Regions from separate parts of the Homo sapiens genome. Here all the other regions are reported to be linked to region 3. Evidence: microRNA targets listed by miRTarBase, many of them from high-throughput screens and not tested one by one. Region 3 holds a microRNA gene; each other region holds the end of a gene's coding sequence.

What was found. The annotated mature microRNA hsa-miR-6088 reads AGAGAUGAAGCGGGGGGGCG and lies in region 3 at 2,708-2,727, shown strand. An mRNA with a match to its seed (bases 2 to 7 or 8) in the 3' UTR can be bound and repressed. Matches are read on the target gene's strand: a 7mer-m8 pairs with bases 2 to 8, a 7mer-A1 pairs with bases 2 to 7 and ends in A, and an 8mer does both.
Region 1: miRTarBase lists JAKMIP2 as a target of hsa-miR-6088. The part of its 3' UTR that is shown has no 7-base or 8-base seed match.
Region 2: miRTarBase lists RAB22A as a target of hsa-miR-6088. Seed matches in the 3' UTR shown: 7mer-m8 at 3,032-3,038 and 7mer-A1 at 1,300-1,306.
Region 4: miRTarBase lists AGAP1 as a target of hsa-miR-6088. Seed matches in the 3' UTR shown: 7mer-A1 at 2,098-2,104.

What each region holds. Positions count from the first base shown.
Region 1 is chr5:147,598,262-147,602,427 of GRCh38, forward strand. It overlaps JAKMIP2 (janus kinase and microtubule interacting protein 2), which reads right to left. Exons shown (of 22, transcript NM_001270941.2): 21 at 3,480-3,550. The coding sequence ends at 3,500. All of the region lies in intron 3 of JAKMIP2-AS1 (JAKMIP2 antisense RNA 1), which reads left to right. Among named protein-coding and RNA genes, the nearest start is that of JAKMIP2-AS1, 40 kb to the left of the region's middle.
Region 2 is chr20:58,359,099-58,363,264 of GRCh38, reverse strand. It overlaps RAB22A (RAB22A, member RAS oncogene family), which reads right to left. Exons shown (of 7, transcript NM_020673.3): 7 at 1-3,659. The coding sequence ends at 3,562. Among named protein-coding and RNA genes, the nearest start is that of VAPB, 28 kb to the left of the region's middle.
Region 3 is chr19:45,433,947-45,438,112 of GRCh38, forward strand. It overlaps MIR6088 (microRNA 6088), which reads left to right and starts at 2,708; the gene lies at 2,708-2,758. It also overlaps a transcript of ERCC1 not described here.
Region 4 is chr2:236,123,395-236,127,529 of GRCh38, reverse strand. It overlaps AGAP1 (ArfGAP with GTPase domain, ankyrin repeat and PH domain 1), which reads right to left. Exons shown (of 18, transcript NM_001037131.3): 18 at 1-3,611. The coding sequence ends at 3,408. Among named protein-coding and RNA genes, the nearest start is that of GBX2-AS1, 42 kb to the left of the region's middle. RefSeq lists an enhancer at 302-812.

The DNA of each region.
Region 1 (4,166 bases), not on the chromosome of region 3:
GTGCTGGGATTACAGGCGTGAGCCATCAGCGGTTCTTGGGTTTCTGATTTGAACAGAGCCATGTTGCTTCTCTGGTTCTCCAGCGTGCAGATGGCTTACCATGGGACTTCTCCACCCCCATAACCAGGTGAGCGAATTCTCTTAATAAAGCCGCTCTCATTTTCATCTATCTATCTATCTATCTATCTATCTATCTATCATCTATCTATGTATCATCTATCTATCTATCTATGCTATTGGTTACCTCTCTGGAGAACCTGACTAATACATTGATATGCCATTCGTTTGGAAAACCAGAATGCATAGCCAGATAATATCTTCTGGAACTACTTGGAGTCCCCTTGTTTAAAGTAAAAGTCCTGATATAATCCATGCAGTTATTTAGTCAATGCCAGCACTGAGTCCAGTAAGGGTGCCTTCTAGGGAGCGTTCGATGGCTTCTATATCATTACTGACAATAATGACTTAGGCAATTACTAAAAGAAAAAAAGTAGGAGTCTCTCCATTTTAAGGAGGACTTTGTCATTTAAGCTAGTCTTGGGTTTATGAACACAATACAAATCATTAATTTAGTATGGAAAAAAATTTATCGTAATTTGCAGTAAGCTTTCACTACCTACCAATAAAGAAGCACTTTTTCCCTTACTTCTTCCTATTTCTATCTTGCCAACTTTGGAGACATAAGTAGCATTGATCAGTTTTCAGTGATGTTTTATTCCCTAATATTATTTAAAGCCAGATTATTCCCTGAGAAGAGGAGATGAAAAAGCAACTATTTGTTTGGGTTTAGGCTGAAAACTACTTGGCAGTACTAGAGGTTATAATTTTGAATTTAGTATAATTTTGTATACTAGAATACTAGTATAATTTAGTGTAATTTTGAATTCAGTAAATGTGGTAGCTAATTTTTAAATCTAATAATAGCTAAGAGTTACTGATTAATGATTTTCCAGGCACTGTTATGCCTTTGACATGCATAACCTCGTCTCATTCTCTCAACACAACACCCTGCTGTAGGTAACATGATTATAACCATTTTGTGGAATAGGAAACCTAATCTTGGGTGGATTAAATAAACTGCCTATCATCACACAACTAGTAAATGGCAGGACTCAAGCTTTAAATTATATCTGACTTGTAAGCTGTGCACTCTAACCTCTCAGCCATTTTACTGCATATGCAATATATTTATTGCCCAGATTCACTGTCACATTCATCGGCTATATTATTAATTATCATTATAGTCATTCACTTAACAGACAATTACTAAGTGTCATTTATGTGCTACTTTGGAGGAAAAACATCAAATCTTGTACATCCCTCAAGGAGTTACACAAAATGGGAAAAGGTACAGAGACGAGCACACTGTAATTTCAAAAGCCAGTAGCTAAGTAGTACTATACAAATAGATGACGCTTCTGATGAGGATACATATGAACGCCAATGTTGCTTGAAACATGGGAGAAAGGCCCTTTTTTACTTGTGAGGCAGTTTGGTGGTTAGAAGTGGATTCTGGGCTGAGGCTGCCTGGGTACAAATTGGTAGCTGGATGGTCTTGGGAAAGTCACATGCTGTAGTTTCTCCAACTACAAATTAGGGATAAAAGCAATACCTATCCCACAGGGGATTTCATGAGGATTAAATGTATCTATTACTTAGAACAGCTCCCAGGACATAATCAGCTTTGGCCAGCATTGATGTTAATGCTGAAGCCTATCCATTTTCTACCTAGTACTTACAAGGTTTGATATTTCTTCTGTAAACCACCATGTATTACTTGTCTCTTACTGAAATTTATTTTCCCTACTTTTAAAATTTATTTACTGTTTTTTTTTTTTTTTTTTTTTTTTGGTGGGGGGAGGCTGTTTGTTTCCTGATACTCTGGTCATTTTGATCCTTTACTAGTGAATCTCCCTCCACTTCAATTTGGATATTCCCATTCAATTTAAGAGACTTAGTCCTCTTCTTTCCATCCTACAAGGCTGTCATCTTTCTTGACAGACAAAGGATAGTGGTCAATCTGAAAAGAAAATATTTTGGAAGAAAGAATATAGCCAGAGAGTGAGTTATGAGTTCATATATTTTCTGAGCATATCTACTTAACTCTTTGCTTGTATCAGGTTATTCTAAAGCACTTTTACTTGTCTGTTCCATATCCAGGTAACAGATCTCATACCTATGGAGGGAGAAAGTGCCTCTCTTCTGTTTTCCAACTTGCTGTAGAAAATGTTAAATCACCTGAGGTCCAGGAAAGATCTCAGGCTAATATAATTTAATAGGATAATCAGAGTTGACATGAACCATGATAAATGGATTTAGAATAGCCGCTGGCCCTTCTTCTTTTTGAACAGTGGTATTGAGATTTGTGGTTTCCCTATTTGGCCGGCCATCAGAATCACATAGCGTGCTTGTTAAATACAGACCAGTCCTTGCTCTCATCTCTCCCACCCTCTCTCTATCTCCCTCTATCTCCAGTGATCTGACTCAGCAAGTCTGAGGTGGGGCTTAAAAATCTATATTTTTAAGCACTGGGAATCACTAAGATTATTTATGCATGTATTCATGAGACATGGACTTAATAATAGTAATTATAAGACTCTCCTTTTTGTTTTCTATATTGACATTGAAAAGTAACTTATTTGAAAACAAGATCCACTTAGCCTGCTTTCTTGAGTTTTAATGAACTCCCTAGTCTCTACTGGGGAAAAGGGGTGAAAAAAACAGCAGTCATTACTAGCTTGTTAGATTAGCAGAATCAGAATTTTCAAGCTGAACGCAACACTAAAGATAACGTCATTATTTATTCACTTTGCAGATACAGATGCAACTTTCTGCATAATGGGAGACTATGATGAGAATGCTAACAACCACAGACATTGTGACTTCCCAAAGTAATACAGTTAACTGGAACAGATTCTTGATTCCCAGAATATTTGGTTTCTTCACTTTTCTAATAATCACCCAAATAGACTGGATCTATTTCTCAATTTATGGCATTTATGCTAACCAAAGCAAGTGTGTTTGTATTTTAAAAATATAGCATAGTTAAAATATATAGACCAGGCCTGATGGCTTGGTCAACACTTTGGGAGGCTAAGGCAGGAGGATTGCTTGAGCTCTGAAGTTCAAGACTACCCTGGGCAACAAAGTGAGACCTTGTCTCTACTAAAAATAATAATAAAAAAAAATTAGCTGAGCATGGTGACACATGCCTGTAGTCCCAGCTACTCAGGAGGCTGAGGTTGGAGGATCGCTTTGAGCCTGGGAGATTGAGGCTGCCAGTGAATGATCTGATTGTGCCACTGTATTCCAGCCTGGGTGACAGAACAAGACTCTGTCTCAAAACAAAACAAAACAAAACAAAACAAAACAAAACAAAACAAAACAAAAAACTAAAGAAAGGCATAGTAACTATAGGTAACATCCTTTTTATCAAATACCTCTTAGAACCACATTTTGAGAATTAAATGGAATCTTACCTTTAAGAGGCACCTTGACATCAAGGCCATAGAATAAAGGCAAGAGAGAAGAACAAGAATAGAAACAGAAACTGCAGAAGAAAAAGAAGAAGATTATGTAAATCTGAATTTCTGTAGTGCCATTCAGGTAGTACAAAACCTCAGCTTTTCCATATTGCTCAAGTCTAATCACTTCACACATGAACATCAAGCACCTTTTTGTTTAAAAAAATCCACACCTTTTATGTAGCTACTGACAGAGTATCAGTGTTCAACTAACATTGATTCATACATTTTAGAATCATGAGGTGGTCTTACGAACAATTGGTCTAAGCTCCTAATTTTACAGATAAGAAAAATAAGCACAGAGCAGTAAATCAATAGTTTAATTTCATACAATTTTATGGCACAGTGAGGGCTAAAGCTTAGCTAGCCTGAATCCTACTTTATTATATATCACTGTCTCTTTCATGCACAAGAGGGTATTTCAAAAACACAAAATACGATCAGAACATACACTTAATCATGCAGTACTATCTTTTTTGGTTACTATGATAGGTTTTAGGATTAAGGCACAGCTGGGAGAATATTAATCTGTAGGCTAAATATATACTTAATTACTCACAGTGGAACATTTCAGAGAGAGAAATGGACACTGTTAATAATTACATTGGGTTGATGGGTAAAAACTGGGTCTGTCCTAGGCAA
Region 2 (4,166 bases), not on the chromosome of region 3:
AAGAATTCTGTAACTCACTCTTAGAATCTAAAAGATGCCTGTAACCATGAGCAAATGCCTTTCTGAGCTGGAGGCTGACATGCCAATTAGTGCAGTGTCGTCGGAATCTAAACTGCTTATTTTAACACAATGCCCTAAAAATACTGACATTTTGGTTTGACAGTTACAGGAAAGTTAGCTAAAGGATATTTTCATTACTATATTTCCCAGAGTTTAATTTAGAAGGCTTCCTAGACCAATTTTCCTCCTTGAGAACAGAAAAGAAATACATACAAGACGTAAAGAGAAGTTCTGAAATTAAAGTTGGTTTCCTTTCCCTTTAGATATTTAAGAATAAGAGGAATTGACAACTTCAAGAAGGACACCAGCCCACATAGAGGAGGCGCTCAAGCCTCTCACACAAAAGTCCCGATCCTTCCAGACATCCAGAAAGTGCGTACACAATGGGAAACAGGGACTTCAAACAACATCATAAACGGGTCACAAGAAAATAAGTTACTTTGAAAAGAACTAAATCTTTCACCTGCTTCGTGTAAAACTTATTCTGACCACGGCTGACAGGCAGGTGATGGACACTTAATCATAATCTTACTTTATGTTCTTTTAATCACCAGATGATGGTTAATTAGTTATCATAGAATCAGAAAAACACTTGTGTGAGAGTTCTGGAGACCATTGGTTTCTAGGATTGGACGCCTGCAAAGAGCTTATTTCAATTTCTCCGAAAAGAATCAACATACAGTAGCAGCTAATTAATAATTTTTCTCTTCTGTTCAGTCCTGAGAGTTTTAAAAAAATGGCCCTGTATCGTAAGAAAACCAAACATGTTTATAGATGGGAGTATGTCTCAATTCCTTTGAAATATAGCCTCTTCTCCATAAGAAATTATTATAAAGAAAATATGAAATGTGTATTAGATCATTGCTTAGTCAGCTTAATAATCCAAAATGTGTTCAAAATGAAACACTGCTTCTGACTTTAGTATTCATCTTTGCATTTTAGAAGCAAATAAAATAAGTGAAAATATTTTTTCCCTGCTTTCACTGAGTATGGATTATGGATCTGAGAGAGCAATTTTTTGTTGTTGTTGCTAAGCATTAGAAGGATATTACACGAGAAACAGTGCCGAGTCAAGTTCTTAGACAGACTGATGAAAATGAGGGAAGAGGCCCGAGAAATGCATAAGTACAAGCTTCATATCACTCATTCTGTTAATAAAACATGTGGCTATAATAAAACAGAATCACACCCTACATATGGGAGGGAGGGTGAGAAATCATGAAATCAGCAAAGGGCTGATGAGATGGACCCACATTGGGCTCGGTACAGTAAAACATCACAGTAAGATCAGACACATCCAGATGCCTCACCAGTTAAGATGAGCTCAGAAGACCTTGCCTTTCCCCATGCACCGAGACACCATGCAATCACCAACAGCTACTGGTGGGTGTGGTGGAAAAAATGTGAAGGTCATAGATTTGCACCATCTTTTGGTAAAATAAGACAGAAAGGGTCGCACATGCTTTGCCTCTTTGGTAATGAGTCAAGCAACCTCTGTTTTTATTTTGTTGTCATGGAGATAGAGGCCCAGCAGTGGGAATTCTAGGGACACACCAGGGTGGTGCCCGGATGCCTGGGATCCATCTGGATGTATACAGAAGAAAGTCAAACTACTTTAGGTGTAAAGCGCCTGGCTCTGGGAATCACATGGCTTCTCTAGGAGCTTGCTAATTTAGCACCGGGGAGGAAGCAAAATCCTAGGGGCATGGAGCATCCACATGTCTTTTAAACAAAACGAAGTTAGAATTTTTACTAATGACATTCTTTTTATATGATTTCAGAAGATAAAAAAAATTCCAAATGCTTAAGATATACAACAGGGAAAAGGGAATTGTTTTTTATTTAATCTGAATTATAATTTTCCCATTAAAATCTATCCATATTAAGTGGGGGGCACAAAATAATACCAATTATTTTTTAAAGTTTCAGCTGTTCAGTTTCAGGATAGCTCTGAAAATACAATTTAGTTTGAAATTCAAGCTGTTTCATTTCCTATTAAATCTTGTAAATTTCCTTCCCCTACAATACTCAGGTTGGAAGGGTGCCAAATTAGACCAGGAACAAATTTTCACCAACTTCACTTCAATGCTTTATTTTTAGATGATATTAAAAACCTCATTAGGCTCCCTGAGGGAAAAGAGTGTTAACCACTAACAGAGGCAGGGGAAAAATAAAGGAAACAGAAAGATAAGCTAAATTGTTAACAAGGAAAGCTCCTCAGTTGGTCTGAGGATGCTGTACAAGCTAAAAGAAACTTATTACCAAGACCAGGTAAATGACTTGAGGTTGGAGCTTAATCTTTTACCCTCAGGCTAGTAAGGACTAGTCAGGTTTGTCAAAGTGGCATATGTCTTTATTATGATTTCCAGATGGGATCTGGTGGGAGGCGGGTGGGTAGAAGGGAAGGCAGAGAAACCTTTAAAGATTGTAAGCTAAGTGCTCTATACCTTTATACAATACCAATGTGCTTGAGTCTCCCGTTAAGAGGCTGAAAACTGGGCAGGCATACGCAAGACTGGGTGCGAGATTCAATGGAATGTCAAATGAAACTTAGAATTTATTAATGTATTTACATAATTTATAATCTTTAAGCAATGGCCCCATAAATATAGACTACAACTTTACATATGCTAAGCAATAGATACTTGCTTTTCCCCACCAAAATACTTGGGTTAAAAAAAAATTGACAGCATTTATACCACCTTCTTCACTTCCACTCTTCTTCCTTTTTAAACCATTGCTAGTCATTTTAGAACATATGAAATTCAGTTTATTCCGGGCAGCTTCTCTACCATCACCATCTTGATCATGAGAGCTTATTTAAAAAGGTGCCAATAACGTGTTTGGTGGCACACACATGACAAGGTCAGAAGCAAACCCAGGATGAGCTAGGCATCTGCTGCTATCATTGTTAATTTACTGTACGTATCCTAGGCTAACATGTTCAATGAAAAGTGCTTTAGAGATGGCAGAGATGAAATCATTTCCATCAGTCCTATAAATAACCCATTTTAGCTTCAGACAATAATTGTCCTCCCTACACTTAAACTATCCTACTATATGTTAAATGATACAACTCCCTCTAACAGTGGTAACAGAAACCAAGGAAATTATAATCTCCACAAGGTCTGTTTCTTTTCCCTTAAGAACCACAAAAGTGCTAATTTTCCCTTTACAAATGTTACATAAAATCTTGATTACAAAACTACTCAACAACTTAATCCTACCATCCATACAATTATATGTTCCTTTTCAGCAAGGTCAAAAGCCAACGATGTAGTCCCTTTGTACACTAGAGATTCTTTACATAATAGAAGTTCACAGACTGAAATATCATTGCTGCAGTCTTTGGAGAACAGAACTGGTCCATTTCTGTGAATCCTTTTTGCACGGAGAAGACTCAAGACTGGCTAGGTGAAAACTGGTGGCAGGGACCCCAGCCCTCCTGTTAACTTTCAGGACCACCTACTTCATCATCAAGTCTGAGAGGCTGAGGTTCGGTCAGCAGCAGCTCCGCTTTGGCTCTGAAGGCTGTCTTCGGAGTTTGAAGCCCTTACCGCCAGATGGCAGGTTGGCGTCAGTGGATGGAATTCTTCGACCTAAACCAAGATGAGAAAAGGGAAGGGAGTGAGCTTTAACTTTCTCAGACACAACAATTTTGCAGATGCAATTTGACAGGTTTCACTGAAGTAAAAAAAAAAAAAAAAAAGTTTAATAAACTTTTTATACTCGAATAATTTTAGATTTATAGAAAAGCTGCAAAGATGATAGAGCTCCTGTGTACCTCCCACCCAGTTTCCCCCAGTGCTGACATATTACCATGGGACATTTGTCAAAATGAAGAGTTCAACATTGCCACATCACTATTAACTCCAGACTTTTTTCAGATAGCATCAGTTTTTCTACATGTCCTGCTTCTGCCCCAGGATCCAAACAAGGATATCACACAGCACTTAGTAAACGTTTTTTAATTAAAAAAAGCCACACATCAAAAACATTTTGTTTTGAGTAGGTAATACATAGGATTTGTTTTTTAAAAAGTTCAGTCAGAACATGGTTGTCCCTCTGTCTCATGACAAGGCCACCACTGTGGCCCATTTCTCGTG
Region 3 (4,166 bases):
ACATGGTGAAACCCCGTCTCTACTAAAAATACACGCACACAAAAATTAGTCAGGCATGGTGGCATGCGCCTGTAGTCCCAGCTACTCGGGAGGAGGCTGAGGCAGGAGAATCACTTGAACCCGAGAGGCAGAGGTTGCAGTGAGCCGAGATTGTGCCACTGCACTCCAGCCTGGCCAACAGCAAGAATGTCTCACACACACACACACACAAAAAAAAAAAAAAAAAAAAAGAGGAAGAAGAAGAAGAGACCTGTCCATGTGCCCTGGCTCACACCTGTAATCCCAGCACTTTGGGAAGCTAAGGCTGGCAGATCGCTTGAGCCCAGGAGTTTGAGACCAGCCTGGGCAACATGGTGAAACACCGTGTCTCTCCAAAAAATACAAAAAAAAAAAAAATCGCATGGCTTGGTGGCATGTGCCTGTAGTCCCACGTACTCGGGAGGCTAAGGTGGGAGGATCACTTGAGCCCAAAAATGTCAAGGCTGCAGAGGGCCATGATCATGACAATGCACTCCAGCCTGGGCAACTGAGTAAAGCCCTATCTCAAAAAAAAGAAAAGAGAATCTATCTGGCAGTTTTCTCTCTTGCCTTCCAATCGTTGCATCTCATTTATTTTTCTTGTCTTACAGCATTTTTTTGTTTTTGCTTTTGTTTTCCGAGACTGAGTCTTGCTCTGTCACCCAGGCTGGAGTGCAGTGGTACGACCTCAGCTCACTGCAACCTTCGCCTCCCGGGTTCAAGCAATTCTCCTGCCTCAGCCTCCCGAGCAGCTGGGACTACAGGCGAACATTGCCACACCCGGCCTTTTTTAAAAATTTTTTTATTTTTATTTTTATTGTTTTTTTTGAGACAGAGTTTCGCTCTTGTTGCCCAGGCTGGAGTGCAATAGTGCGATCTTGGCTCACTGCAACCTCTGCCTCCTGGGTTCAAGCGATTCTGCTGTCTCAGCCTCCTGAGTAGCTGGGATTACAGGCATGCACCACCACGCCCGGCTAATTTTTTGTATTTTTTTTTTTAGTAGAGATGGGGTTTTTCCACGTTGGTCGGGCTGGTCTCAAACTCCTGACCTCAGGTGATCCACCTGCTTCAGCCTCCCAAAGTGCTGCAATTACAGGCATGAGCCATGGTGCCTGGCCAAATTTTTGTATTTTTAGTAGAGACGGGGTTTCCCCATGTTGGCCAGGCTGGTCTCAGACTCCTGACTTCATGATCCATCCACCTTGGCCTCCCAAAGTGCTGGGATTACAGGCATGAGCCACTGTGCCAGGCCCATTTTACAGCATTTCAAACACTTCCAGGACTATGCCGCACAGTAACATTGATTCTCACAGCAGCCCTCCACACTACAACCCTCTGAGATGACTTATCTCACCATGCCCATTTTACAGAGGGAGAAACTGAGGCACAGGGAAGGTAGACTCTTATCCAAGGCCACATAGCAGGTAAACAAACAAACTAGGACTCCAACCAAACCTTGTGCTCTGTCTCAGCCTTAAAAGAAAACTCAATAAACATTCTGGCCTTTTTGTTTTTGTTTTGAGACCTTTATTCTGTTACGCAGGTTGGAGTGCAGTGTGGTGATCACAGCTCACTGCAGCCTCAAACTCCTAGGCTCAAGCAAACCTCCTACCTCAGCCTCACAAGTAGCTGGGACTATAGGTGTGCACCGCCAGAGCTGGCTATTTTTGTGTAGAGATGGGGTCTCGCTATGTTGCCCAGGCTGCTGATCTCAAACTGCTGGCCTCAAGGGATCCTCCTGCCTTGGACTCCCAAAGTGTTGGGATTACAGGTGTGAGCCTCCATGTTCAGTCCACATTCTGTACTTTTTTTTTTAGATGGAGTCTCACTCTGTCACCCAGGGTGGAGAGCAGTGGCGCAATCTTGGCTCACTGCAACCTCTGCCTCCCGGATTCAAGCGATTCTCTCAAGTCTCAGCCTCCCAAGTAGCCGGGAGTACAGACATGTACCACCATGCCCGGCTAATATTTTTTGTATTTTTAGTAGAGACGGGGTTTCACCATGGTGGCCAGGTTGGTCTTGAACTCCTGACCTCAGTTGATCTGCCCACCTCATCCTCCCAAAGTGCTGAGATTACAGACATGAGCCACCGTGCCCAGCCTATTTTTTTTAAAACGGGAAAAATATCTGTAAATTGCCACAGTGACCCACGGAGCCTGGATGAAGAGCGGGAAGCCTGAGGTCTCCTTCAGTCTCCATCCTCTCTCTGAGCCTCAGTTTCCTTCCCTATGTGGAAGGGTTGGAAAAGATGTTCTCTAAAAGCCTCAGAAACTCTGCCGTTAGCGTGGAGGGGACAGAAGCTCAAACAGATTGCATTAGTTTCTTAACGGCTACTATAACAAATTATCCCCAATTCAGTGACTTAAAACAAGAGAAATTCGGCCGGGCGCCGTGGCTCACGCCTGTAATCCCAGCACTTTGGGAGGCCGAGGCGGGCGGATCACGAGGTCAAGAGATCGAGACTATCCTGGTCAACATGGTGAAACCCTGTCTCTACTAAAAATACAAAAAATTAGCCGGGCATGGTGGCGGGCGCCTGTAGACCCAGCTACTCGTGAGGCTGAGGCAGGAGAATGGCGTGAACCCAGGAGGCGGAGCTTGCAGTGAGCCGAGATCACGCCACTGCACTCCAGCCTGGGTGACAGTGAGACTCCGTCTCAGACAAACAAACAAACAAAAATAGTTTTGTAGAGATGAAGCGGGGGGGCGGGGTCTTGCTCTATTGCCTACGCTGATCTCAAACTCCTGGCCTTGACATTGCAATCTGCCCGCCTTGGCCTCCCAAAGGGCTGAGATTACGAGTGTGAGCCACCCTGGCCTAAACATTTAAAACGACATGTGTGACAGCCAGGCATGGTAGCCTGCACTTGTAATCCCAGCTCCTTGGAAAGCTGAGGTGGGAGGACCCCGTGAGACCAAGAGTTGGAGATCAACCTGGGCCATACAGTGAGACTCCATATATAGTGGATTCCAATATAGTGAGACTTTAAAATATAAAATAAGGGCCGGGCATAGTGGCTCACGCGTGTAATCCCAGCACTTTGGGAGGCCAAGGTGGGTGAATCACCTGAGGTCAGGAGTTCGAGACCAGCCTGACCAACATGGTGAAACCCCATCTCCACTAAAAATACAAAATTAGCCAGGCGTTGTGACACACGCCCGTAATCCCAGCTACTCAGGAGGCTGAGGGAGGAGAATCGCTTGAACCCAGGAGGCAGAGGTTGCAGTGAGCCTTGATCACGCCACTGCACTTCGGCCTGGGCGACAGGAGCAAGACTTCATCTCAAAAAAGAAAAAGAAAATATATATGTGTGTGTGTATATATATATATAATAAGTAAAAATAAAATCGTACATATGGATCTAGCAGACTCATATACCTCTGGTTATATTTCCAAAGGAATTGAAATCAGGATGTCGAAGGGTTATCTACACTCTCAAGTTCATTGCAGCACTGGTCACAATAGCCAAGATATGGAGTCAACCTAAGTGTCCATCAAGGGACATAATGGATAAAGCAAATGTTGCATATACACACGATGGAATACTATACAGCCTTGAAAAGGGAGGAAATTCTGCCATTCAAGACAACATGGATGGAACTGGAGGACATTATTCTAAGTGAAATAAACCAGACACAGAAAGACAAACACCACATGATCCCACTTTTATATGGAATCTTAAAAAGTCGAGCTCATAGAAACAGTATAAAGGTGGCTACTAGAGTCCAGGGAAGTGGGAGAGGGTTGGGAAAAGAGAAGATGTTGATCAAAGGGTGCAAAGTTTCAGCGAGACTGGAGAAATATATTTCAGTGATCTATTGCACAGCATGGTAACCACAGTTAATACTAATGTATTGTGTATTTCAAAGTTGCTAAAATAGAGTTTAAATTTTTTAAATTTGTAAATATTATTTTTTATTTTTTGTCACTACGTGTTCTCATCTGATTTTTTTTTTTTTTGAGACGGAGTCTCGCTCTGCTGCCCAGGCTGGAGTGCAGTGGCACAATCTCGGCTCACTGCAACCTCTGCCTCCTGGGTTCAAGTGATTCTCCTGCCTCCGCCTCCCGAGTAGCTGGGACTACAGGCGTGTGAGACCACGCCCAGCTAAATTTTTTTTGTATTTTTAGTAGAGATGGGATTTCACCG
Region 4 (4,135 bases), not on the chromosome of region 3:
GCTCTGCAGGAAATGCAATTCATTAAGATCCCGCTCTCTCCTGTGTCTGAGAACCCTGCGATTGGCGAGTGACCCGCTGCCTTCTCCCTCCTTTCCAGTGCATATATACATTGTGCACACACTTGGGAGACAGGACACTGCACCTGGTTTTGGGGCCAGTGACTCAGGAACTTGTCACTTGCTCACCCTCGAGCTGCTCATTTCCTGGGATGAAACAGAGAGAGGGACCAGGGACCAGGACTGGGGTGCTGGGCGGGGGAAACCATCTGCCCGTCCCAGCACCTGAGGTCAGAATCACAGAGTACTGTCCCTGCGGGGTGTTTCTGCTGCAGCCAGGTCTGCACCACACCCCTCCACTCCCCGCCAAGTTCAGTCTCCGCGAAGCTGAACGCGGGGGTGCAGATGTGTCCAGATCACCCATGGGGTTACACAGGCCGCTCGTGGGCCTCCCTCAGCTGGCTGTTTCTCATCAAGGGAGAGTTTTAATTCTGAACAGGAAAGGTGAGGGGGATCCTGCAGTGGTGATCTGTCATCGTCACGTCACAGAACTGAACATGGAAATGAACAACGAAAACTCCACCCCCTTCTCAAACGAGTTATTCCTAGCTCCGCCCCCAGTCCTTGCCTCTCCCAGCCTTGGTGGTAATTAGCTTGAAAGTGGGAACGAGAGTGCGGTCCGCAAAGAAAGGACTTCTGGTTAGACACTGAAATACAAACAGACTGCCAACGAGCTCTGGGCAAAGCTGCCCCGTCTTCTTTTTTTCGAAAGACCCTCAAAAACTGCCTTTCCTTCTGCTACCAAAACTTGGGCCCTAGAAAGTGGCTGCGGAGTGGAGCAGATGGACATCACTGAGAATGGTAGAGGAGGGGCTGTGTTTTCTGAGGGGGAGTCATGGCAGCTTGTGCTGGGGGCCAGGAAGGGAAAAAACCAATCTGGCATTCAGGTTGTGGAAGGCAAAGTGAAACAAGAAGTCATTTGGGAAAATATTATATTATAAACACATAGAATAATATGTACACGCTCATATACATCCCAAAGAGAAGCCTCAAGGAGTTCCGTTTCTTCTCAAAAGAAACTTCACTATGATAAAGCATTCCTATAGTGGGAATTAACTACAATGAAATAATTTAACAATTTCATTTATGCTATATCTGTGTCCACTACAGAGTCTACGGTGAAGGCTGTGTGGAGCGAGTGTGTCTAGTGGACTCGAACACCAACGCGTTCTTCAAAAATAGGCAATGACCTGTTTTTTTCTATTCACATTTACAATAGCTACACAGTGATGAAACGCAGACTGAAAAATCAAATGGCAGGACGATGGAACTGTCGTCAAGGTTCTCAGACTTGTGGCTTCTGCACCTGTTATACTTTTGGATACGAGTGAGCTCCACTTAGCTTCGTTAAGATTAGAAATTTCCATGAAACACTTACCCACATATAAATTCTGTGTAAAGCTTTATTTTTTTCCCCACCTACTTTAATTTTTTTTAAAAAGTGAAATAAGAGGAAAAACTCTTATAAAATATAAGGTTTAACATACGAGAGAGCGAGGAACACCCCGGAGGCTGCCGGTGCGTGTGGCTTCATGTTTCTGTGCTACATGAGTCTAGTGTCCTCATCTTCCATTGTGACAACCCTTCTCCCCCCATCACACTGTCAATGAGCTCTAGGCAAAGCTGCCCCGTTTGCTTTTAACCTAAGGGATGCTGTGGTTTGGTTGACTACATTTGACTACCACCACTGAAGGCGGCGGACGTCTGAAGCGGCTGGATACCGCAACGATGGAAAATCAGGCGAGGTACTAGCGTGGAGGGCCGGGCTGCCAGGTCAAGGTCGTCTGGGTTCTCAGGAGCCAGTCTGTGCCACAGAACCATTGGCAGCTGCCTTCGTAAGGCACCTCGGTCTGGCATTCGGAAAACCACCCCATCTTGCCAGAGTCCCTTGGTCCTTGGTTAGCAAAAGCCGTATCCGATCTAAATCATGCTTTCAATCATGAGAGACCACATTCCTTCTTTTTCCTTTCTAATATACTCCAGTGTGTCTTTTTTTTTCTTTCTCAATTTTAATAAGCAAATTGTACCACCATCTTATTCTGAGATGCTCCTTTTCAAAAGCCGTAGATCACATTAATGGAAGTGTTTACTGCTGGGAATATTTTCCATGTACAATGATCTGTAACCCTCTTATCTCAACTAGTTGCACATTATTAGTTCACATCCAGTTCAATTTATAAATTAAGAGAGGTGCCATTTGTCTGTACAAAAATCAATGCATATTTATGAACTTCTTTTATTCAAATATATTTTCACACATCTTATCTAAATACATAACACAGAAGCCTGTGTGACTTGGGCAACGTGGTCCAGGAGGGCCTGAGACTAACACATCCACCTCGGCAAAAGGACATCAAATATCTCTTACAGTCGGAAAAAACAGCCTTTTGTGTATTTCCTTAGTTTACGAAATATACTCGAAATGCTATTATTAGCTGAATTTGTGGTTTCCTTTTGAGTTTCTGAGTTATTCTTATTTATTTTTCCCATTTTGTTTTTGCACCAAGGAGACCGGAGTCAAATAATACTCAGCGACTGATTTCCTCTCTTTGGACTGAAAAATTAAACAGATACTAAATGATGACAGTGAATTTAGAGAGGGCTCCAAGGGCTTGAAAGAACATGTCTGGGATAATATGGTGCTTCTAAGAGTATTGCAATCACATCGTGGCAATCACCGGCGCGTGCCGCGTGACTACCTCCTCGGCTAATATGCTTTCTTCTCGGCGATGACTAATCACGTTCTATTAAACAGCAGTAATGCGGGAAGAACTCGGCTGTACAAGTGTAATGAAGCCAGTATTCTCCCTGGACAGATTAGCTACAACTGATTTGACACACACCATCATAGGGGCTTCAAACCTGACAAACTCTGTGCTTGCTTCTGATTTATGCCGTCGAGCTCCTCAGAGAAGAGATGGAATCCAAGTGTTCCGTTTGGTAGAGGGGAAATGTACTATGTGCTCAACTGCCAGTTAAGGAAAGTTGCCCCTTCTCCTTGTTCCTCGCCTCCCCTCCCCCTCGCGTCCCCATCCCTTGTGCCACCAGGACAAGGGTCCTGCGCCATGTGCTATCATCAAAGGGCCGAGGCCCGTCGCTCTCTCCTGTGTGTGGTTTAGGGGAGTTTATGAAAAGGAGCCACTTCTGCAGTCTCCCGGCCGCCTCTTCGCCCCTTGAGGGATGTCCAGGTTTTGTGATTTTGTTTGGGGTGAGAGTGGGTGGGCGGGAGGGAGGTGGCCACCAGGAAGAGGGAGGGGATGCGACGGGACTCACGTGCTGCGACTTCTGAGCGAGAATGCGGCGAGGCTGCCGCGTCCCAGGTGCGGCGAGCAGGCGGGCACGGCTGTTCCTCAGATGATGGTGGGCACCCTCCCACTGCTGTTGTTCCGGTTATTGTTTCTCCTGGACAGGTTAGGGGTGGCCATGAGCACGAAGCGCTCGTCGGGGCAGCCGTACTGCAGCAGCACGTCGATGCACTCCTGGCTGGAGGCCTGCCGGGCGTAGGCCAGAGCTGTGTTCCCGTGGGCATCTCGGGCCGTGACGTCCACTCCGTACTGCGGAGGTAAGGGAGCCCACATTAGTATCATGGGGGATGTGATGGAGGGAGGGGGCAGGGAAGCTTTCTCTCAGCCCTTGCATGTGGCTTGTGCTTGGACAGCGGGGCCAGCTACACAACTGGCTGGGGTGCCAGGACCATCCAGTGCTGGTGGCACAGCCTGCACCCGTGGCCAGCGGATTCTTTTAAGGAAAGAACATGTCTTTTTTTTTCAACTGAAAGCCCCTCCTTTGTGCAACATTAAGGAATCAAAGATAACTTTAGTTTTGCTGTTTCTATTTTGACTTTCCAATTGCACAAAGAAAATCATTGTTTTGATCTCAGAATTTTCATTATAGGAAATACACAAATAACACATAACAGCTCAAGAAGAAAAAAAATCACCCATAATCTTACTACTTAGAGATAACCTTTGTGAATTAGTGTATTTCCTTTCAATGAGTTTTCTTTGAATCTACATGTATATGTACATAATTGAGATAAGACTGTACAAATAATTTGTATTTTTTTCATTTTTTATTG